3 separate regions of the Homo sapiens genome follow, and all the other regions are linked to region 3. The links come from fine-mapping of genetic effects on gene expression. A gene starts in region 3. Each other region holds a variant in brackets. All regions are shown on one strand. Distances are from middle to middle.

The links. PIP is the estimated chance that this variant, and not a neighbour inherited with it, causes the effect.
Region 1: its variant is the best candidate, but not a certain one, in a credible set for the expression of RGMB in blood mononuclear cells (TOPMed, PIP 0.58).
Region 2: its variant is the best candidate, but not a certain one, in a credible set for the expression of RGMB in whole blood (TOPMed, PIP 0.66).

What each region holds. Positions count from the first base shown.
Region 1 is chr5:98,492,076-98,499,812 of GRCh38, reverse strand. No RefSeq gene overlaps it. Among named protein-coding and RNA genes, the nearest start is that of RGMB-AS1, 280 kb to the left of the region's middle. The variant C/G (reference allele first, on the strand shown) is at 4,806.
Region 2 is chr5:98,539,872-98,547,608 of GRCh38, reverse strand. No RefSeq gene overlaps it. Among named protein-coding and RNA genes, the nearest start is that of RGMB-AS1, 230 kb to the left of the region's middle. The variant G/T (reference allele first, on the strand shown) is at 4,165.
Region 3 is chr5:98,769,176-98,776,912 of GRCh38, reverse strand. It overlaps RGMB (repulsive guidance molecule BMP co-receptor b), which reads right to left and starts at 3,250. Exons shown (of 3, transcript NM_001366508.1): 1 at 2,707-3,250. The coding sequence starts at 2,842. It overlaps RGMB-AS1 (RGMB antisense RNA 1), which reads left to right and starts at 3,829. Exons shown (of 2, transcript NR_033932.1): 1 at 3,829-4,291; 2 at 5,729-7,295. RefSeq lists enhancers at 2,014-2,133, 2,389-2,888, 3,624-3,673, 6,052-6,552 and a silencer at 2,774-3,403.

The sequences.
Region 1 (7,737 bases), 280 kb after region 3:
TGCAGCTGCATAGGAAGATAGAGGCTTTGTCCACTTGGGCCTCTGAGTGACTGCCATAAACCTAGCTTCTCTGTTGTCTTACATGGGTTGTGTACATGAGAAATCAACTTTTGCTGTGTTATATCATGAAAAAGTTGATGTTTTTCATTAATGCATATAAACTAGCACATAGAGACTTACACATAGGATTAATTAATGTGTTTATTTATTATTTATTACACATTGAAAGTGATGGCAGAAACCACAATTACTTTCACACCAACCCAAATATTTTAAAAGGCACTATTTATGTGAATAAACTCCTTGTGACTAGAAATAGCTCTTATACATAGAATATATTTGTGTAATATTTAACCTACTGTAACTCTACCTTTATTAAGTGTATCTTGTGTGCAACATCCATATTTATGGCAAGATAACATCCCAGGAAAGAATAAAACCCAAATCAGTGGCTGTATCAGTGATGGAAACATAGTAGACACACAGAAAACATTTCTTGAACTGAGTTAGGTCTTATAAGAAAGCAAGTGTGCAAGAAAGAGCCTTTTGGCCACAAACCACATTAGAGAAAGAAATGCAGGAGAGAAAACAAAATCATGATGAGATAAAGAAAGCAAAGTAAGCTGCAGGGTTTTTACATAGCCAGAACGTGGGTAGGTTCAGGCCAGAAAAATGGGAACACATTGATGGAGTGAACCCAAAGATTGAGGAAAGATAAAGCTGGTTGTGCAGTTTTCAAAGGAGTTTTAGAACTTAGGCTGTGTCTCCAGATATCAAAAGTTTGATCGAGTTTCATATTGGTTTTACAGCCCTGATGGACTTTTTGTCAAGTTGATTGTGTTATATAGACAGAGTGATTTTGTTTTTATTTTCTTAGAGAGTTGTGTGTCATATCTAATCATATGTCTTATCTCACATAGGTTAGTAGTGATTTTTATGGTAAGAAAAGCTTTCTTTTTCAACATCATAAACATTTATGGAATTCATAATAATATAAACTTTTGTATTTCTCCTTTTCCACTTATAATTTTTTAATGCTTCTATTCCCTGCAAGAGCGATGCTTCATGAGGGTAGAAATGATACTAGTCTTCAACATGGAATTCTCATTATTACCACAATGACTTGTACACAGTAGATGTTAAATATCTTTTGAATGAGTTGATAAATATGTATATTAAGCTTCTAAGCTCCTCTTTGGCACGGTGCTACTTCATCCGTCTATTCTTATTTCCATTAGACCCTACCACACACCACCCTACACTCTGGCCTGCATATAAGCATCAACCATCTTTGTTCTTTGAGTTACTTGCTTTCCTTCCTCAATATGTTTCATCTCTCTGCCTAATATTAAAAGCTAACTTTTATGACTAAGTCCTTTGCATTTGTTATCCCATTTTCTAAAACAAAACAAAAAATAAAACAATCAGGTAGGTACTATAATTAACACCATTTACAAATGAATAAGGCTTAGAAAGGTAAGCTATCTTACTTCTGTGAGCCCCATAGCTCCCCAGCCACACAGCTGCTGATGTCTGCTTCATTATAGAACCATTGCTCCTAACCACCTTTTGTACATTCTTCAAGCCTCAGTTCAAACACTACTTCCTCCATAAAGCTTTCTTTTATTACGTTGATCTTCACTAATCTCTACTTTGTCCCAAACACCTGTTATACTTAAAGTCAGCACCACATTGCTCACTCTCGATTGTTCTGTATGAGTTCATGTGTATTAATTTTATCTGTACCATTAGATCTTACAGTCCTGAATAGAAATTGAGCCCTATTTATTTTGTATTATTCCATTATGTCTAGCAAAGTAGAGATGATTAAGGAAAACTTCCTAGTTAATGGATCAAAAAAGAATAAAGTAATGTTAGAATTGCAAAATTTATCCCAGAATTTTCATCTAGAATTTTTCCACAAGGCTAGAGTCTGACAAAGACCTAACTATTTCTTTTGATATCTTTCATTTAAAAAAAGTTTAGTTTACTTCCTGCCACTCAGAAACTTAAAACCATATCTTCAGATTTGGGATTGTTAGAAATAACCTTTTGAAGATGAGATGAAAACTGTTATTTTCAGTCATTAAAAATGTTTTAAGAACAAAGGAATCATGTGACAACTTGTGACTAATGCAATCAGAGAAGCCGGAGATTGGGATGTTTATTTTTACACATTGGGAAGGAAAAAGTAAGGATCAGCCTCTAAGTTTGACACCTCAAATGAGTTCAGTGGTTTTGCATCATATCACATGGACATAGTGCCTCTCTTCATGCCTCCACAGAAGTAGGCAGAGACACAGAAGAAGGCCCCAGGCCAGAGCTGTGAGTACAAACTGGATCTAAGCCTTAATAACTGAATCCAACCACATAAACAACTCAGAACAAGTGAAGAAGTGCCAAACTTGTCCTTGTGAGTTTCCCTGTAAATTAAAAATAAACTGGAACAATTATGTATTCAGATTATGGAAAAGTAATGAAATTGAAACTGATTTAAGTAAATGATTTATGATTCCCAAATACCTAAAACTACTACAAAATTAAGTTTATCTTGTGCAAAAGGAAAAAACAAAATACATGGAGCCCTTGGTTAGGTTTGATATTCTTCAAAGACATTACAAGATATTCCAAAATGTCAACTTGAATCATGGATTCAAACTTAGACTAAGAACAAACAATAGTCATTACCTAAGTCTCTTTTGTGGCCTTTGTAAAACCAACTCACTATTTAAGTTCATTTCCAATGCAAATATGTCACCAGCATTTAGTGGCAGGGTTGCTGTGTGTGTTCACACACAGTGGGGCAAGTGAGAATCAAGAAATTCACAAATGGGCCATCTGGGTTCCATGCAGAATCTCCTCTTCTCCCATTATGTTAAAGCGGCACTACTTCCTCCTACTGATCAGGTTCAGTTACCCTTGCTATGTTGTGGGGATTCAATGTTTGTGGATCAGGCATTGTGTCAGCGAGGCCTGGACAGCGAGGATCTGTGGGCAGAAAAAACAAATTCATATGTCCAGAGAGGGATTTTCTTTTCTTTTTTTTTAACGTTTATTTTAGGTTCAGGGGTACATGTGCAGGTTTGTTATATAGGTAAATTGAATGTCACAGGGGTTTGGTGCACCCAGGTAATAAGTGTAGTGTCCAATAGGTAGTTTTTGATCCTTTCCCTCCTCCCGCCTCTGCCCTCAAGTAGGCCCTGGTGTCTGCTGTTGTCTTTTCTGTGTCCATTTATACTCAATGTTTAGCTCTCACTCATAAGTGAGGAAATGTGGTATTTGATTTTCTGTTCCTGTGTTAGTTCACTTAAGGTAACGGCTGCTAGCTCCAACTGTGTTGTTGCAAAGGACATGACCTCACTTTTTTCTGCTGCATAGTATTCCATGGTGTATATGTACCACATTAAAAATTTTTTTTTCCATAAGTTATTAGGGTACAGGTGGTATTTGGTTACATAAGTAAGTTCTTTAGTGGTAATTTTGGTGCATTCATAACCCAAGCAGTATACACTGCACCATATTTGTAGTCTTTTATCCCTCATCCCCCTCCCACTCTTCCCCCCAAGTCCCCAAAGTCCATTTTATCATTCTTATGCCTTTGCGTCCTCATAGCTTAGCTCCCACATATCAGTGAGAACATATGATGTTTGATTTTCCATTCCTGAGTTACTTCACTTAGAATAATAGTCTCCAATCTCATCCAGGTCATTGCAAATGCTGTTAATTCTTTTTATGACTGTTAATTCTTTTTATTATCTGTTAATTCCTTTTTATGACTGTGTAGTATTCATATATATATATTATGTATATATAATATATATATACACCACAGTTTCTTTATCCACTTGTTGATTGATGGGCATTTGTGTTGGTTCCATGATTTTTCAATTGTGAATTAATGCTGCTATAAACATGTGTGTGCAAGTGTCTTGGAAACAACCCAAATGCCCATCAATGATAGACTGGATAAAGAAAATGTGGCTCATATACACCATGGAATACTATGCAGCCATAAGAAAGAATGATATCATGTCCTTCGCAGGGACATAGATGAAGCTGGAAGCCATCATTCTCAGCAAACTAACACAGATGATAATGTGATTTTTAATTCTGTTTATGTGGTGTATCACATTTACTGACTTGTGTATGTTAAACCATCCGTGCATCCTTGATATGAAACCCTCTTGATCATGTTGGGTTATCTTTTTGATACGTTGTTGGATTCAGTTAGCTAGTATTTTATTAAGGATTTTAGCATTTATGTTTATCAAAAATATCTGTCTGTAGTTTTCTTTTTTGGTTATGTCCTTTCCTGGTTTTGGTATTAGGGTGACGCTGACTTCATAGAATGAATTAGGGAGGGTTCCTTTTTTATCTTGTGGAATAGTACAAAAGGATTGGTACCAATTCTTCTTTGAATGTCTGGCAGAATTCTGCTGTGAATCTGTCTGGTCCTGGATTTTTTTGTTGTTGTTAATTTTTAAATTGCCATCTCAGTCTCACTGCTTGTTTTTGGTCTGTTCAGGTTATCTAATTCTTCCTGATTTAAGTTAGGAGGGTTGTATTTTTTTTAGGAATTTATCTATCTCTTCTAGGTTTTCTAGTTTATGTGTGTAAACGTGTTCATAGTAAACTTGAATAATCTTTTGTATTTCAGTGGTGTCAGTTGTAATATCTCCTGTTTTGTTTCTTAGTGAGTTTATTTGGATTTTCTCTCTTCTTTTCTTGCTTAATCTTGCTAATGGTCTATCAGTTTTATTTATCTTTTCAAAGAACCAGATTTTTTTTTCATTTATCTTTTGCAT[C/G]TTTTTTGTTTCAATTTCATTTAGTTCTGCTCTGATCTTGGTTATTTCCTTTCTTCTGCTGGGTTTGGGTTTGGTTTGTTCTTGTTTCTCTAGTTCCTTGAGGTGTGATGTTCACGTGTCAGTTTGTGCTCTTTCAGTCTTTTTGATGTAGGCATTAAGGGCTATGAACTTTCCTCTTAGCACTGCCTCTGCTGTATCCCAGAGGTTTTGATAGGTTGTGTCATTATTGTCTTTCAGTTCAAAGAATTTTTTAATTTCCATCTTGATTTCATTTTTTACTCACTGCTCATTCAGGAGCATGTTATTTAATTTCCATGAATTTGAATAATTTTGAAGGTTCCTTTTGGAGTAGATTTCCAGTTTTCTTCCACTGTGGTCTAAGAGAGTGCTTGATATAGTTTCAATTTTCTTAAATTCATTGAGGCTCATTTTAGGGCCTATCATATGGTCTCTGTTGTAGAAAGTTCCATGCACCGTTGAATAGAATGTGTATCCTGTGGCTGTTGGATGAAATGTTCTGTATATATCTGTTAAGTCCATTTGTTCTAAGTTATAGTTTAAATCCATTGTTTCTTTGCTGACTTGCTGTCTTGATGACCTGTCTAGTGCTGTCAATGGAGTACTGAAGTCCCCAACTAATATTGTGTTGCTATCTCGTTTCTTAGGTCTGTTAGTAATTGTTTATAAATTTGGGAGCTCCAGTGTTAGAGGCATATATGTTTAGGATTGTGATATATTCCTGTTGGACAAGGCCTTTTACCACTATATAATGTCCCTCTTTGTCTCTTTCAACTGCTATTGCTTTAAAGTTTGTTTTGTCTGATACAAGAATAGCTACCCTTGCTTGTTTTTGGTGTCCATTTGCATAAAATGTCTTATTCCACCCCTTTACTTTAAGTTTATGTGAGTCCTTATGTGTTAGGTGAGTCTCCTAAAGACAGCAGATGGTTGGTGAGTTCTTGCCTATTCTGTGGTTCTGTATCTTTTAAATGGAGCATTTAGGCCATTTACATTCCCATGTTAGTAATGAAATGTGAGGTACTGCTGCATTCATCATGCTTTTTGTTGCTGGTGTAATTTGGTTTTTTGTTTTTGCTTTTTAACTTGTATTTTTGTTTTGTAGGTCCTGTGTGATTCATGCTTTAAAGAGGTTCCGTTTCTATGTGTTTCCAGGATTTGTTTCAAGATTTAGAGCTCCTTTTAGTAGTTCCTGTAGTGGTGGCTTGGTAATGGTGAATTCTCTCAGCATTTGTTCGAAAAAGACTGTATGTTTCCTTCATATATGATGCTTAGTTTTGCTGGATACAAAATTCTTGGCTGAAAATAGTTTTGTTTGAGGAGGCTAAAGATAGGGCCCCAATCTCTTCTAGCTTGTAGGATTTCAGCTGAGAAATCTGCTGTTAATCTGATAGGTTTTTCTTTATAGGTTACCTGGTGCTTCTGTCTCACAGCTCTTAAAATTCTTTCCTTTGTCTTAATTTTGGATAACCTGATGACAATGTGCCTAGGTGAAGATCTTTTTGCAATTAATTTCCCAGGTGTTCTTTGTGCTTCTAGTATTTGGATGTCTAGGTCTCTAGCAAGGCTGGGGAAGTTTTCCTTGATTATTCCCCCAAATATATTTTCCAAGCTTTTAGAATTCTCTCCCTCCTCAGGAACACCAATTATTCTTAGGTTTGGTCATTTAATATAATCCTAGACTTCTTGGAATCTTTGTTCATACTTTCTTATTCTTTTTTCTTTGTCTTTGTTGGATTGGGTTAATTCAAAGACCTTGTCTTTCTGGTCTGAATTTCTTTCTTCTACTTGTTCAATTCTATTGCTGAGACTTTCCAGAGCATTTCACATTTCTAAAAGTGTGTCTAAAGTAAAAGTATGTCTAAAGTTTCCTGAATTTTTGATTTTTTTTAAATTTTATTATTATTATACTTTAAGTTTTAGGGTACATGTGCACAATGTGCAGGTTTGTTACATATGTATACATGTGCCATGTTGGTGTGCGGCACCCATTAACTTGTCATTTAGCATTAGGTGTATCTCCTAATGCTATCCCTCCCCCCTTCCCCCGACCCCACAACAGTCCCCTGTGTGTGATGTTCCCCTTCCTGTGTCCATGTGCTCTCATTGTTCAATTCCCACCTGTGAGTGAGAACATACGGTGTTTGGTTTTTTGTCCTTGAGCTACCTCTTTCATTAAATATTTTTCCCTTCACTTCTTGTATCATTTTTTGGATTTCTTTGCATTGGGCTTTGCCTTTCTTTGGTTCCTCCCTGATTCGCTTAATAACTAACCTGAATTCTTTTTCAGAAAAGTCAGGGACTTCTTGGTTTGGATCCATTGCTGGTGAACTAGTGTAATTTTTTTGGGGTGTTGAAGAGCCTCATTTTGCCATACTACCAGGTTTGGTTTTCTGGTTCTTTCTCATTTGGGTAGGCTGTCAGAGGGAAGGTCTAGGGCTGAAGGCTGTTGTTCAGATTCTTTTGTCCCATGTGGTGTTTCCTTAATGTAGTACTCTGCACCTTTTCCTGTGGGTGTGGCTTCCTGTGAGTCAAACTGTAGTGACTGTTGTCTCTCTTCTGGGTCTAGCCAGCTGGTGAGTCTACACAGTTCTGGGCTGGTACTGGGGGTTGTCTGCACAGAGTCCTGTAATGTGAACCATCTATGGGCCTCTCAGCCGTGGATACTTGTGCAGTTTTTTGGGGGGTCTCCCAGGTCCTGCAGGAGCAGTTGGCTTCCTTCAGAGTGTCTGTGGGTCCTCTCCTGTACCACAATTTCTTTATCCAGTCTGTCATTGATGGGCATTTAGGTTGATTCCATGTCTTTGGTATTGTGAATCATGCCACGATGAACATTCATGTGCATGTGTCCTTATGGTAGAATAATTAGAATTCTTTGGGGTATATAACCAGTAATGGGATTGCTGGGTCAAAT
Region 2 (7,737 bases), 230 kb after region 3:
TCCAGTTTTTCTGTTCTGTTTTTTCCCCATCTTTGTGGTTTTGTCTACTTTTGGTCTTTGATGATGGTGATGTACAGATGGGTTTTTGGTGTGGATGTCCTTTCTGTTTGTTAATTTTCCTTCTAACAGACAGGACCCTCAGCTGCAGGTCTGTTGGAGTACCCTGCCGTGTGAGGTGTCAGTGTGCCCCTGCTGCAGGGTGCCTCCCAGTTAGGCTGCTCGGGGGTTAGGGGTCAGGGGTCAGGGACCCAGTTGAGGAGGCAGTCTGCCCATTCTCAGATCTCCAGCTGTGTACTGGGAGAACCACTGCTCTCTTCAAAACTGTCAGACAGGGACATTTAAGTCTGCAGAGGTTACTGCTGTCTTTTTGTTTGTCTGTGCCCTGCCCCCAGAGGTGGAGCCTACAGAGGCAGGCAGGCCTCCTTGAGCTGTGTTGGGCTCCACCCAGTTCGAGCTTCCTGGCTGCTTTGTTTACCTATGCAAGCTTGGGCAATGGCGGGCGCCCCTCCCCCAGCCTCGCTGCAGCCTTGCAGTTTGATCTCAGACTGCTGTGCTAGCAATCAGTGAGACTCCGTGGGCGTAGGACCCTCCGAGCCCGGTGCAGGATATAATCTCGTGGTGCGCCGTTTTTTAAGTCCATCGGAAAAGCGCAGTATTTGGGTGGGAGTGACCCGATTTTCCAGGTACCGTCCGTCACCCCTTTCTTTGACTAGGAAAGGGAACTCCCTGACCCCTTGCGCTTCCCGAGTGAGGCAATGCCTCACCCTGCTTCGGCTCGTGCACGGTGCACGCACCCACTGACCTGCGCCCACTGTCTGGCACTCCCTAGTGAGATGAACCCAGTACCTCAGATGGAAATGCAGAAATCACCCATCTTCTGCGTCGCTCATGCTGGGAGCTGTAGACCGGAGCTGTTCCTATTCGGCCATCTTGGCTCCTCCTCTGACTATATGCTTCTTATATTTGAAAAACCATAAATATAAGGGACAGATTAACTTAAAAATAAAATAAAGGAAATACATGTACTTTGCAGTCATTGACAACAATGGAGTAGCTTTATTAATATAAGATAAACATTAATAGAAATGCATTTTTACAGATGAAATGGGACATTTACTATTGGCAAAAGGACCAAATAAGTTGAAAAGCATAAGGCTCTAAATCTCTATATGGTCAACATCATAGCACACACTGATAGAAATAAAGGGAAAAACAGAAAAATCCACAATTATATTAAGAGACTAAAGCAACTCTCTAAATACTTAAGACAAGCAAAAATAAAATCAATAAAGTTATAAAAAACCTGAAAAACCAATGAGCAAAATTGACTTTTTTGACATACATAGAAAACTGTATCAATAAGAACAGAAGAAAATTCCTTTTCAAACAAAAATATTACATTTACAAAAGAGTCTGAGGCAGGAGAATGGTGTGAACCCGGGAGGTGGAGCTTGCACTCCAGCTTGGGGGACAGAGTGAGACTCTGTCTCAAAAAAACCAAAAAGTTGACCACTTGACCATATGGTGAGTCAAAGCAAATATCAACAAATTTCAAAATACTGAAAGAATTAGAAATATGTAATTTTATTTTGGTGGAAATAACCTAGATATCAGTACAAAAAAATAAACTAGAAAATCCCAAACTGCTTGAAATTTAAGCCACATACTAATAAATAAACAAGAACTCAAAAAAGAAATGGTGGAAAGTAGGAGATATTTTAAGGTAAGTAATAACGAAGGTGCAACATTTTACAACAAATTATAATTCCATGAAAGAATGCTGATAAATCTCACAAGCATTATGATGAAAGAAGGCAGACACATACAAAAGTACACCTTGTTATTCCATTTATATAAAGATAAAACTTCATAAACAGGCTCAACTAACCTCTGACGTTAGAATTCAGAATGATTCTTTCCTGGAAAGAGGGTAGTGGGGGTGACTGGAAGAAGTTATGTGGTGGCTACTGGTGTACTAGTAACATTATCTCTCTTGATTTAGGTGCAGGATGTGCTTCTTTTGTAAAAATTTCGTCTATACATTTATAATTTGTGCATCTTAAAAACGTGTGTTTTACTTCAATTAAAAGTTTGCTTTAAAAAAAGCACAATCAACATCAAGGCTGTTAATGTAGTGTCATTGTATGCATTCTTATATTTAAATATCATCAATGTTTTTGGTTAGGTTTGAAGGAAAGGAGCTAAAAATGCCACAGCCAGTAGACGTTAGTCCTCAGATTAAAGAAATAATTGTTTCAATTGCTTCCCTAAATAGAGGCATATAATTCTGGATCCTCCCTCAAAAGCAGTTATTCGGGTTTTTTTTCTTCTTTTTTTGTACGGATAACCTCTGAAATATACCTTCATTGTCAAATAGAACAGATGCAAGTGTATATACTGAATTAGCATGATTTTCACTGAGACACAAATGTGAAAAACTCTTTTTGTTTCTATCACAAAACATTTAAAAATGTATTTCCTTAAACTTATACAAAGGAGATCTAAACAACTGATGAGAGAAACAATGTTACTATATCGAATTTAAGACTTGTTGATTACATAAAACTGACCATAAAGTAGAATACTGTTGTCATACTTCCAGCAAATATCTCACAATTGACTTTTACTGTCCTGTTATTTGCAGTGACATGGAAGGAACTAGAGGTCATTATGTTAAGTGAAATAAGCCAGGCACAGAAAGACTAATATTGCACATTCTCACACCTATGTGGGAGCTAAAGTAGGTAATTTCATGGAGGTGGAGGGTAAAATGCTGGCTACCAGAGGCTGGGAAAAGTGTGTGGGGGGTAGGCTGGGGGGGTATGAAGAGAAGTTGGTTAATGGGTACAAACATACAGTTAGATAGAAAGAGTAAGTTCTAATGTTTGATCGCACAGTAGGGTGACTACAGTTGTATATTTCAAAATAGTTGGAAAAGAAGCTCTGGAATAATCCAAGCACAAACAAATAATAATTGTTTGAGGTGATGGCTATTTCAGTTACCCTTATTTCATCAGTTTATGCATGTAGCAAAATATCACATGATCCCCACAAATATGTAGAATTATTATGTATCAATAAAATGAGTAATCTGTAAAAAATTAACTTTTACTTGAGATTAACAATATATCCTTTTTGGTTAGTTTTTTTCTAGCTTTATTGACATATAATTGACAAAAATTATATGTACTTAATGTATATAACATAATATTTTGATATACATACATTGTGAAATGATTGCCACATTCAAGCTAATTTACATGTCTATGACTTCACATAATTACCATTTGTGTACGTGTGTGTGGTGAGAACCTTTAAGATTGACTCTCAGAAAATTTCAAGTATACAATATAGTATTATTAACTGTATTCACCATCAGTACAGTATTGTTAAATATACTCAACTACCATTCTACTCTGTGTCATAGTTCTAGGTTTTTAGATTCCATACATAAGAGAGATTATGCAGCACTTGTCTTTTGTGTCTGGCTTATTTCACCTAGCATAATGTTATCCAAATTAATCCATGTTTGAAAAAATGACAGGATTATTCCTTTTTTTAAGGCTGAATGATATGTCATTGCATTCATATACCACATTTTTTTTAAATCCATTGATTTGTTGATAGACATTTAGGATAAATCTATATCTTGGTTATTGTCAACAATGCTGTAATAAACATGGGAGTGCAGATGTCTCTTCAAGATACTGATTTTGTTTCTTTTGGGCATATACCCAGAAGTGGAATTGCTGGATCATGGGTAGTTCTATTTTTAAGTTTTTGAGAAACCTCCCAACCACTTTTCATAATGGCTATACAAATTTACCTTACCACCAACAAAGTAAAAGCATTACCTCTTCTCCACATCCTCAACAATACTTAACATGTTTTGTCTTTTTGATAATAACCGTTCTAACAGGTTTGAGGTGATATCCTTTTGTGGTTTTCATTTTCGTTTCTCTGATAATTAGTGGTGTTGAGCAGTTTTTCATATACCTTCTGGCCATTAGGATGTCTTCTTTTGATAAATGTCTATTCAAGTCTTTTGCCTTTTCTAAAATTAGTTTATTTCTTTTCTGACTTTTGCGTTGTTTGATTTCCTAACGTATTTTTGTGTCTTCTTTTCAGAAATATCTATTCAGGTCTTTTGCTCATTTTAAAATA[G/T]ATTTTTTTTCATTTCCAGCTTTTATTTTAAGTTCAGGGATACATGTGAAGGATGTAGAGATTTGTTACATAGGTAAACGTGCACTATGGTGGTTTGCTGCACAGATCATCCCATTACCCAGGAATTAAGCCCAGCATCCATTAGCTATTCTTCTTAATGCTCTCCCTCCTCCCACACCCTACACTCTGACAGGCCCCAGGATGTATTGTTCTCCCCTCATTTGCCCATATGTTCTCATCTTTCTTCTTCCATTTATGAGTGAGAACACATAGTATTTGGTTTTCTTTTCCTGCATTAGTTTGCTAAGGATAATGGCCTCCAGCTCTATCCATGTCCCTGCAAAGGACATTATCTTGTTCCTTTTTATGTTTGCATAGTATACCAATGTGAATATGTACCACATTTTCTTTACCCAGTCTAACATCGATGGGCATTTAGGTTGATTCCATGTCTTTTTTATAGTAAACAGTGCTGCAATGAACATACACATGCATGTATCTTTATAATATAAGAATTTATATTCCTTTGGGTATATATCCAGTAATGGAATTCCTGGGCCAAATGGTATTTCTGTTTTTAGGTCTTTAAGGAATCACCAAACTGTCTTGCACAAGGGTTGAACTAATTTACAACCCACCAACAGTGTATAAGTGTTCATTTTTCTCCACAACATCACCAACATCTGTTATTTTTTGACTTTTTATTCATTGCCATTCTGACTGTTGTTAGATGGTATCTCATTGTAGTTTTAATTTGCATTTCTCTAATGATCAGTGATGCTGAGCTTTTTTTTATATGTCTTTTGGCTCTGTGTATGTCTTCTTTTGAGAAGTGTCTGTTCATGTCTTTTGCCCACTTTTTAATGGGGTTGTTTGTTTTTTTTCCTTGTGAATTTCTTTTTATTCAATTTCCATGTAGTTGTATATTTTTGAGTGAATTTCTTAATCTTAAGTTCTAATTTGATTGTGCTGTGGTCTGAGAGGCTGTTTGTTATTTCAGTTCTTTTGCATTTCCTGAGGAGTGTTTTACTTCCCATTATGTTATCAATTTTAGTGTAGGTGCCATGTGATGATTAGAAGAATGTACATTCTGTTGTTTTTGGGTAGAGAGTTCTGTAGATATCTATCAGGTCCACTTGATGAAGGGCTGGATTTAGGTCCTGAATATCTTTGTTAATTTTCTTTCTTGATGAACTGTCTAATATTGTCAGTGTGGTGTTAAAATTTCTCACTATCATTGTGTGGGTGTCTAAGTCTCTTTGAAGATCTCTAAGAATTTGCTTTATAAATCTGGGTGCTCTTGTATTGAGTGCATATATATTTGGGATAGTTAGCTTTTCTTGTTGAATCAAACCCTTTACCATTATGTAATGCCCTTCTTTGTCTTTTTTGATCTTTGTTGGTTTAAAGTTTGTTTTGTCAGAAAGTAGGATGAGAACCCCTGCTTTTTTCTGTTTTCAATTTGCTTGGTAAATTTTCCTCCATCCCTTTATTTTGAGTCTATGTATGCCTTTGCACGTGAAATTGGTGTCTTGAAGACAGCATATCAATGAGTGTTAGTTCTTTATCCAGCTTGCCATTTAATTGGGGGCATTTAGCCCATTTACATTAAAGGTTAGTATTGTCATGTGATAATTTGATCCTGTCATCATGATGCTAGCTGGTTATTTTGCAGGCTTGTTGATTTACTTCCTTCATAGTGTCATTAGTCTTTGCTCTTTAGTGTGTTTTTGCAGTGGCTGGTAACAGTTTTTCCTTTCCATATTTAGTGCTTTCTTCAAGAGCTTTTGCAAGGCAGGCATGGTCGTGATGAATTCCCTCAGCATTTGCTTGTCTGAAAGGAATCTTATTTTTCCTTCACTTGTAAAGCCTAGTTTGGCTGGATATGAAACTGGGTTGGAAATTCTTTTCTTAAAGAATGTTGAATATTGGCTCTCTATCTCTTCTGGCTTATAGGGTTTCTGCTGAGAGGTCTGATGTTAGTCCAATGGCCTTTCTCTCTGGCTGACCTTAACATTTTTTCTTTCATTTTGACCTTGGAGAATCTGATGATTATGTGTCCTGGGGATAATTTTCTCATGCAGTATCTTACTGGAGTTTTCTGGATTTCCTGAGTTTGAATGTTGGCCTGTCTTGCTAGATTGGGGAAGCTCTCCTGGATGATATCCTGAAGTATGTTTTCCCAGTTGGTTTCCTTCTCCTGTCTCTTTCAGGTACCCCAATCAGTCATAAATTTGGTGTCTTTACATAATCCCATATTTCTCAGAGGTTTTGTTCATTCTTTTTCATTCTTTTTTCTCTATTCTTGCCTGCCTGTCTTATTTCAGAAAAATAGTCTTCCAGGTCTGAGATTCTTTCCTCCACCCTGTCTAGTCTGCTATTAATACTTGTGATTGCATTGTGAAGTTCTTGTAGTGTGTTTTTCAGCTCTATCAGGTTGGCCTTGTTCCTCTCTAAAATGACTATTTTGTCTGTCAGCTCCTGACTTCTTTTATCATGATTCTTAGCTCCTTTGCATTGGGTGACAACATGTTCCTTTAGCTGAGTGAAGTTTGTTTTTATCCATATTCTGAAGCTTACTTCTTTCATTTCAGCCATCTCAGCCTCGGCCCAGGCTTGAGCCCTTGCTGGAGTGTTGCAGTCATTTGGTGGAAAAGGGGAACTCTGGCTTTTTGAGTTTTCAGTGTTTTTCTGTTGATTTTTTTTCCTCATCTTTGTGGGCTTATCTGCCTTCAATCTTTGAGGGTGCTGACCTTTGGATGGGGTTTTTGTGAGTTTTTTGTTTTTGTTGTTTTCTGTTTTTCTTTTAACAGTTCCGCATGAATACATACAATTACTTGCCCATTAAAATAATTAATTTTTTAATTTAAAACGTTCTTATAAATTAGAAGGTTAAAAAAGAGCATATGCTTAATAAGGTATTGTTGACCTTTGCTGTTCCAGCATCTCAGTCAGTCTGGCCTGTGGGCCTTGGCGAGCCCAAACTGATCAGGGGCTAAAAGGATCCCCAACAGAGCACAGCTGCTCTACCAAAAGCCAGGGGTCTTGCTATGTTACCGAGGCTGGTCTTGAACTCCTGGCCTCAGGAACACAGCTGAGATCACAAATGAGAGCCACTGCCCCACAAGATTGACATTTTAGTTTCCACATATGAGTGAGATCATGTGAGATTTGTCTGACTAATATATTCCTAAGCAGGGCTTCTTAGACTGTAATAATTACATCCACATTTACTTGGTGATGCCAAATAGTGAGCTGTATCACTTAATGTAGCTGTAATAACTTCATCACTCTTTATCTAGTGAAATGACTATTTTATTTGATATCCCCTATTCTGTATTAAACCAATATGTGTCAATTAATTAATTTAATTTGTGATGATGTTTTTGTGCCATGCTGTATTTGGTGCTGAAGATAAAGTAAGAAATGACATAGACACAGCTCTATTCCTCATAAAAGTCACAATCTAGTCTGGGAGATACTCAAGCAATGTACATATATTGAGAAATAGGAAATTTTGTTCATTAAGTGAGTGTTACATCCCTACCCTCAGGTTTTTGCCCTCTCTTGTAG
Region 3 (7,737 bases):
GTTTCTCCATGTTGGTCAGGCAGGTCTTGAACTCCCAACCTCAGGTGATCTGCCCGCCTCAGTCTCCCAAAGTGCTGGGATTACAGGCGTGAGCCACAGCGCCCGGCCTAAACCTTTCCCTCTTTCATAGCAGGTAGGTGCTGACTGCTTAAACAAATCTCAAATCAAACAGATCTCCCGGGGTTCTTTTGCTTTGGCTAAGGCTTCCAACAGCCTTCTGCTACAGAGATGATGGGAGCGAAGAGGGCTAAATAGAAAGTGCGATTGGGTCAGCATTTTCAGCTGCCTTGTGGGCTTCTATATAATGACTAATTTGTAGCATACACCCAGAAATATCCAGGCTTCATGAATTTATAACGACAACGCACACTTTGCCTGTTATAGGCGGTAAAGTAAGCCTCCTGTCAAAATGCCAAGACAATGCGGAGCAGAAACAATCTCAAGGATGTAGCCAAGAAGGCCATGAAGTGTATGAGTAAGCAAGTAACTCCCATATTGGATCTCTATTCAGGAATTGCAGAGGTTTGCTTAAAAAAAATAAAATAAAATAAAGCAACTAAAGGTACTCTTTTCATACTCTTTTCATTCCCCAAGGGCAGAATTAAAACTCTGCAGCTACAGATTTCTCTATTTTTGGGTCAGATTATCTGTGATCAGTGTGACAGTATTTTCACACCAGTTACTGAACATGCTAAAGCATTTGTGGGTCTAGAGCTTTCATTTCATCATTTTTGAATGAATCAGACATAAAGACCTCACCATTCAAGACAGTTTCTTTAACACCAGGACTACACGTGTGAATCTGCAGCACAATCACCAGTTTATAATAAAAGAAATGAGGTATTCTGAAGCTGAATTAAGTGAAATGTGGAGCCATATGGGGTGCTGAGGCAGATGATAAGGATCCAGGCATAAAACATATAGTAGTCCATCTGCAAAGAGCACTGGCACTCTTGCTGGGTTCCCTTATCTGAGAAACAACCCGGGCATTTAAATAGCACCACTCTTCAAAGAAATCTCTCAAAAGGAGCGTTCTTTTCTTTAACAGGATTAATCGCTTCACTCCAACAAGTTGTCCATAGAAATCGCTTACCACATTGTTGGGCTGAATCTAATGGTGACTTAAATGAGGACACATGAAGATACTGGGAGCTTCACATTCCAAATTCTTGAACGAAGACACCCTACTTTTCTAAACCTTTAAGCCAACTTAGTATGCCTTTCACGGGCTAGCAAAGAAACCTTCAGGGACCACATTCCAATTCTGTCACAGGATCCTATGGCAACTATGGGAAACAATATCCAAGCAGCCAAGGGGGACACAATCCCACCTAGCACAATTTCCATTTCATGAAACTTACATTTTGGTATTATGGACACATATTTTTCGCACAAACACTCCTGAATATATCTTTTAACATGTCAAGAAAAATTTTCCACGTAACTACATGCAGATTGACACTATTTTCTAAGGTTCTTAGGTTACTAATTGAAAGCCGTAATCATCCTAAAACTTTCTATTACACTTTTTTATTAAGCCGTCTTTTCCCTAATTGTCGGTGTTAAAAAGCAGCTATTACATCATAATGCAAAGCTACGCAAAGTAAATTAAGTCTCCTCAGATGTCACATTTTCCCCCCCATTACTTAAAAGACCTCCCTGATTTTTAGCATGGCGGGTATGGTTTAATAAGTAAAAATTACTCCGCACAGTTGGGTGGCATCGAAGTTCAGGATTCTCCAGACCAGAACGTTGTGAAGTGTCTCATATATACAGGACAAAAAAGGTCTGGAAGGAAAAGAAACTTATCTAATGCTGTTTGTTCTCAAGACTAAAGGAAAATGACCCTTTCAACCTTAGCATTAAAAAAAATTCTTTGTCTAGGCAAATTCCTAGAAAAAAATAGTGTGAAGAGCGTCCTGGATTTTCATGAAACGATTTTTTAAAAAGAAAAATAGGTATCACATGGTAGAAGGCTCATTTGCAGGCTTACTTCCCTTGGAACATACGCCTCAAGGCTGGGGAAGCGCCGACCTCCAGAAGGCAGCATGGTTATCTGTCAACCCCTCACGGAGCCCGAAGACACCCGGCTAGTCACAAAACACGAGCTTTTCCCGGGAGGCTGATCGCTGAACAAACGCAGCTTTTGCCAAAACGAAAGAAATCCCTGCTCAAAAAAGTTGACGTTACTTCGAGATTAACTCCCAGGTTTGCAAAATCTGGTAAAAATCTTTCCATCTGGTGTACTTCCTTCGCCTCGCCGCCACCCCCAACTCCAGAAAAGCAGCACAAGGCTCCTTGTCTCCCTCCGAGGCGGCTGCGACGGCGGAAACCTGATCCGAGCCTGACTTTCAGTAAACACCAGCGCAGAGAGCAATAAAGCATCCGGAACATTTGTCTCGGGCGCGCGGCCCCCGCCCGCTAAATGTTTGATAAGCGGCTGTCGGAGGGGAGATTTGTCAGCGGTCCGAGCCGAAGGCGGGGAGGGTGGAGAGAAGGCTCGTCTCTGCGCCCGGCGGCCGCCCGGTGGGTGGCTGCGTTACTGTGGCCCGGAGCCCGACAGAGGTGCGTGTCAGGGGCTCGGGAGGCCTTTCCCGTTGCGCCACGCCGCCCTTCCGCCCCGGCGAGCGCCTTCGAGACCTGGGGCTATTTGGGAACAAAGCCCTAGGCCCCGGGGCTGGCTCCCCTCGCGCGCTCCCGTCCTACCTGCGTGGAGCAGCCCGAGGCTGAACAGCAGCAGCAGCAGCAGCTCCAGCGGCGGGGGGCAGAGCCCGGGGCTGCGGCGCTGCTCAACCTCGGCGGCGGCAGCGGCGGCGCTGGAAGGTGCTGCTCTCAAGCCCATGCCCGTCCATGCAGGTCTCGTGGGCTCCGGCGAGGGCGGCGGCGCGGGCGCCGTGGCGGGTCTGGGCCCGTGGCTGCGGCATGGGCCGGGGGGCGCGCTTCGCTTCCTCTTCTTCCTTCTTCAGGCCCGTGTAGCAGATGGGGCGCCACCACCGCCGCAGCAAGCAGCGCGCAGCCGGCGCAGCCAGTCCGCGGCGGCAGCAGCGGGGCGCAGGGGCATCGTGGCGGCCGGAGGCGGCAGGCAGGGAAAGGGGCGGAAGAGAAGACACAAAGACCGTGAGCGACTGCTGAGACGAGTCCCGAGCGCGCCGGCACCCCGGCCCCAGCCAGCGTGGGCTCGGCGGGCGTGGACCTCCAAGAGGCTGGCCCAGCCCTAGCGACCACCCACCGGCGGCCCGGATATCTCTGCGCGGCAGCCCCCGCGGTCGATCAATCTCAGTCCCGCACTGCCGTCCCGCCCCGCCCTGTGCCCGCCAATCCACGACGCCATAATCCCCCGCCGTGTCCCTCCCTTCCTCCCCATTGGTTGTGACCGCACGTCAGCCCGACTCAGCCTGCCAATCGCAGGACCCAGAGGGCCCTCTCCCCCGCCCGCTCAGTGTAATTCGAGTTCCCTGTCCATCGACTCCAAGTCCTCTCTCCTGCGCCGCATGCTGCCTCGCGCTCCCTTTCCTTCCCCCTCTACCCCCTTCCGCGATTTACTGTTTCCTCGCGCCCAACAGAAATGGGCGACCGCAAGTCTTACTCTCGCCGGCGTTACAAAGGTACCGGCCTTTGACCTCTCCTTGAATTAATGTGATCCGATTCATCTTCCCTCCAAGTTTTTTTTTTAATTTAATTACCCCTCCCTGCCCTGGCCCTGCCAGCTTCAGCTCCACCTCCTTGGAGGAAGCAGGCGCTTTTACAGAGCGCCGCGCGGCAGGTCCCCTTTCAGCCAATCACATCTGCGGAACCGCGTTCCGAGTCGTTTGAGGGTGTCTGGTAAAGCAAGCTCGGGGCGGTGTTGGAAATCTGAATGTCACCCGCGGTCCGGAGCAGATAGGATGGGCTGGGAAGGTACCCGCGAACTGCCGCCGGAATTCGCTGGCAGCTGTGCGAGGCTCAGGTGTTCTAGTTTGACATTTCCCTTCCTGAAAGCGGCAAGGAGAGGTCTAAGAGTGGGCAAACTTCAACGTTCGGTTACAGTGTAATTAATGAGAGTGGTGGGTTTTTATGCAGTGTAATTATGCCACGATTTGTTGTTGCTCAGTGGCTTTTTCACAAATTTCTACAGATTATTTAAATTTTCCACAAATTTCTACGGATTAATTCAATGGCAGCTCACTTTCTCCTTTTATGATCGGATGGGTCCGAAAGTGAGGAAAAAGACAATTGTCTACAAAGAAAGAGGCTGCCAAGTGGAGACAGAAAAGCAGTTATGAGACTGATGATAGATTCCAATTTGTTATCGGTAGGTGTGAAGTGGTATCTAATCTCAAGAATGACCTCAAGGCTGAGAGACACTTGATACCGCCCTCGCCTTTGCCTTTCCCCAAACAGCACAGGGTTGCCATTTAAAATCCACTAACATCCAAATCGTAGTTGGCAACTGTACCCGCTATGTTACTCAGAATCTCTAATTAGGAATTTCTTATCAACCACGGACATGCTGATATTCCACACATGTTTAAATGAGCTAATCAATGGACTAGGATAATTGAGGGGCAAACCTTCAGTCTCACCAGCTCACTTATTAGACACATTTTGAATTGCCCAAACCACTAGGTCCCTAATGAAGGATGCCTATCTGTTTTTACTGTAACTTTTCATTACTTACTTGTTACATACTATGATGACTTAAGGGGTAAACACACCTTTCACTATCCACAATATAATCCAAGCCTGTGTATATCCATAATACGCTTAATAATAGCTTCACAGTTGCCTGGAGAAATGACTTTTGGGGAGGAAGTTATATGACATTTTTAGATAATGCTGCGGACTAAGTATTATTAGAGCAAAAATTTACTATCTTGCAATTACTTCATATAATTAGATACAGTTCATGACATACTAAGAAGCATCTTAAAAAAGTAATCAAACATAATACTGATTTTCAAAGTATTTGGCTAACAAAGACTACATTTTTTTCTCTTAACCCAAGATTTAATTCGACCCCTATAAAAGCAGCATCTCACTTTATTGATCATACTTCAAAGCATATACTCAATAGTTAAGGATCAATAATTTCTGTTTGGTTTGGGTCTTTCCACTCGTGACTTTCTATGATTTTTTACTCCCCTCCCCCTATATCCTGTTCCATAAGTACACGGGTGCTCTAGATTTTCCTATCAATAGAGGGCGTCCTCGAGTCATTGCAAATCCTGGTGTCGTTAAACGGAACTGTTCTTCAGAGGAAAAACTTCATCTCTATAAGGTGCTTTATTGCTCCTCTGTTGTAAAATTTGACAAGCTCGAGATTTATAAGCCTAACAATTCACTTTTTATTGCTGCATAAGTGTTCAGCCGCTAGAGGAAAATGCTAATTTTCACAAGTAAACCGCAAGGTGGTTCCTATTTTCAAGACATAGGTCAGTTGACACACTCGCGGGTAAATTCGTACTGTTCACAAGATCAGGAATTGGCTTGGAAAGCAAGAGCGTAGTGAATAGTCGCTTATACCGCAGCCACTCCTCAAGCCCGTGAGCTGCAAGTTACAAACGACTTTATATTGTACAAAGAAAAATCGGGGAGGGAGCTAGAACACAAACAAAAAAATCGGTGACTTATAAAAGTTTTATGTTTTAATCAGAAAAAAAATCATGAAGTGGCTGATGACTTGTGTAATTCACACATCCACCCTGTTTCTTGCCACTGGTACTCTTTCTCCCTTTCTCTTTGTTTTCAGAAAGGAAGGAGGAGACCTGAACAGTACATCCGGAGAATCCAGCAAAGCATACTACGGCATGAACGTGCAAGTGGACAGAATTAAAACACATGCCAGAAACACTAATGGATTCTAAACAAGATGCAGTTTCATTTCCTGAGCCTATACGTGATGTTTTTAACTGTTCTCCAGTTAATATGTCTCCATTTCCAGAAATCTAACAGGAGAATCTCTGACTGCTTAACAGATCACCTAAGCTTGCGATTTGTGCAATCCTTTCTAGAGTAAGGGCTCCCCGGCTGCTCCCCGGCCACTGTGTACCCAAAGCAGCGGCTGAAATAGCCCGGAGTCCAACAGCTCAGCGTCAAGCAGCTCGTGGTTTGTACTTACATCATTTTTTTTTTCAGAGCAAGAGTGAAAGTTTATTAAAAAGCGTTAGAACAGTAAGGAAAGGAAAGGAGAGAAAATAAGGAAAGTACAACTTGGAAGAGGGCCAAGCGGGCGACTTGAGAAATCAAGTGCCTGTACTTACATCATTCTTAACCCTTTCGCTCCTGGAGGGGGCTCAGCGGGATCAGGGGGCCCCTGAACTTCGGAACACGCAGGACCTGGGTGTGAGAGAAGAGTCCCAAAGCTTGGCGTGAGCAATGCACTCGCGGAGGGAGAGAGCCCGGGGCTTGCGGGGGGCTCATCACCCGCTCGTAGACAACGGGCCCCCGCAATCCCTGCGGGCTCCGCCGCTGCTCTCACCGCTCAAAACGGCAGGTGCAAAAAGCATTTGGGAGCCGCTTGCCAGCGCGCGGAGGTAATGCGCTTCCTGTCCATTTATCTCAGGAAACCAGTGCAGCCTTCCCTTCGAAACAAAATTAACCTCTCATTAGCCAGCCACTCGCTCCCAAGAAGGCCTTAAAAGCTTTACCAGCTCGCTAATGTATTTAGGCTTTTCTTCCAGGCAAACGCAGCCGCCGGTCTTGACTGCCATCGCCCAAGGGGTTCCTCTGGGCTCTCCCGCGAGCCAACAGCCGACCTCTCTCCAGCCTAGTCTGGGAAACTCCAGCCAACCCAGGATCCCATTTTGTAGTCCCGGGCAGACCCGAAACCCCTGAAAGAACTCCACTCCAGAAGACGCCAGAACAAGTTCCCACGAATTTCATGGGCGCCCTTCACATGAAAACCTCAGCTCCCCTATCCTCAAGGAACGGGGAAGGGCGCCGGGGAGGGACTTCGGTGGCCAGCTGTCCCTGGGTCGTGGGCGCTGTTTGCTCTGCGGAGCGCCAGCCCTGCACACAGCGGGTGCGGGAAGCGTTGATGGGAGGCTGGAGGGCGGGGTGAGCGTAAACTAGGATCTAGCCGGTTCCAGGCGTGGAGAATCAAATGTGGTCCTAGATCTGTAAGTTGCGAAAAGGGGCTTTTGGGAGCGTCAGAGCTTTCTCACTCCGGTCCCCCGCCGCCTTGAGGCTGGCAGATTTATACCCCACAGGTGGATGGAGACCTAAACAAAACAGTCCCGGCCGCTGCCTGCCGCTCGCCCCCCACGTCCCCCGGGCCCACCGCAAACTTCAACAAAATAAACAACTCACCACAGGCATTCCCTTGTCTGCAGCGCGACGCTTGCCAGCTGGGAAAATAAGCCGCAAGCCACGCGGCCGAGGCGCGGAGGGAAGGCAGCGCGGCGCCCGCCCCTCTCCCCCAGGTGGGGGGCAGCGCGACTCGGGGCGGGAGGGAGGCTCCGCCTCGGGGGCCGCTCTCCCAGTTCTCCGACTCCAGAATGAGCTCTGGGAGAGGAGCTGCGCCCTTCCAGCTAGCCCGATTTCTCCGCCATCTAGGGGAGAGGGCGGGGAGCCAAATCCCTCAGCCCCCCGCACCCCAGCAGCTTCCTCCAGGCAGCTTTCTCCCCAGTCAGCCTCAAATAGAGGTGAACAGAGACCCTCCTCTCCCCCCGGCAACCCCTATATCGCCACACTGCCCCCTGCCGGCGCTATCCGGCTCATTCCGGCACTGCGGACGGCTGGGGGCGTGGGGGCGTAGGG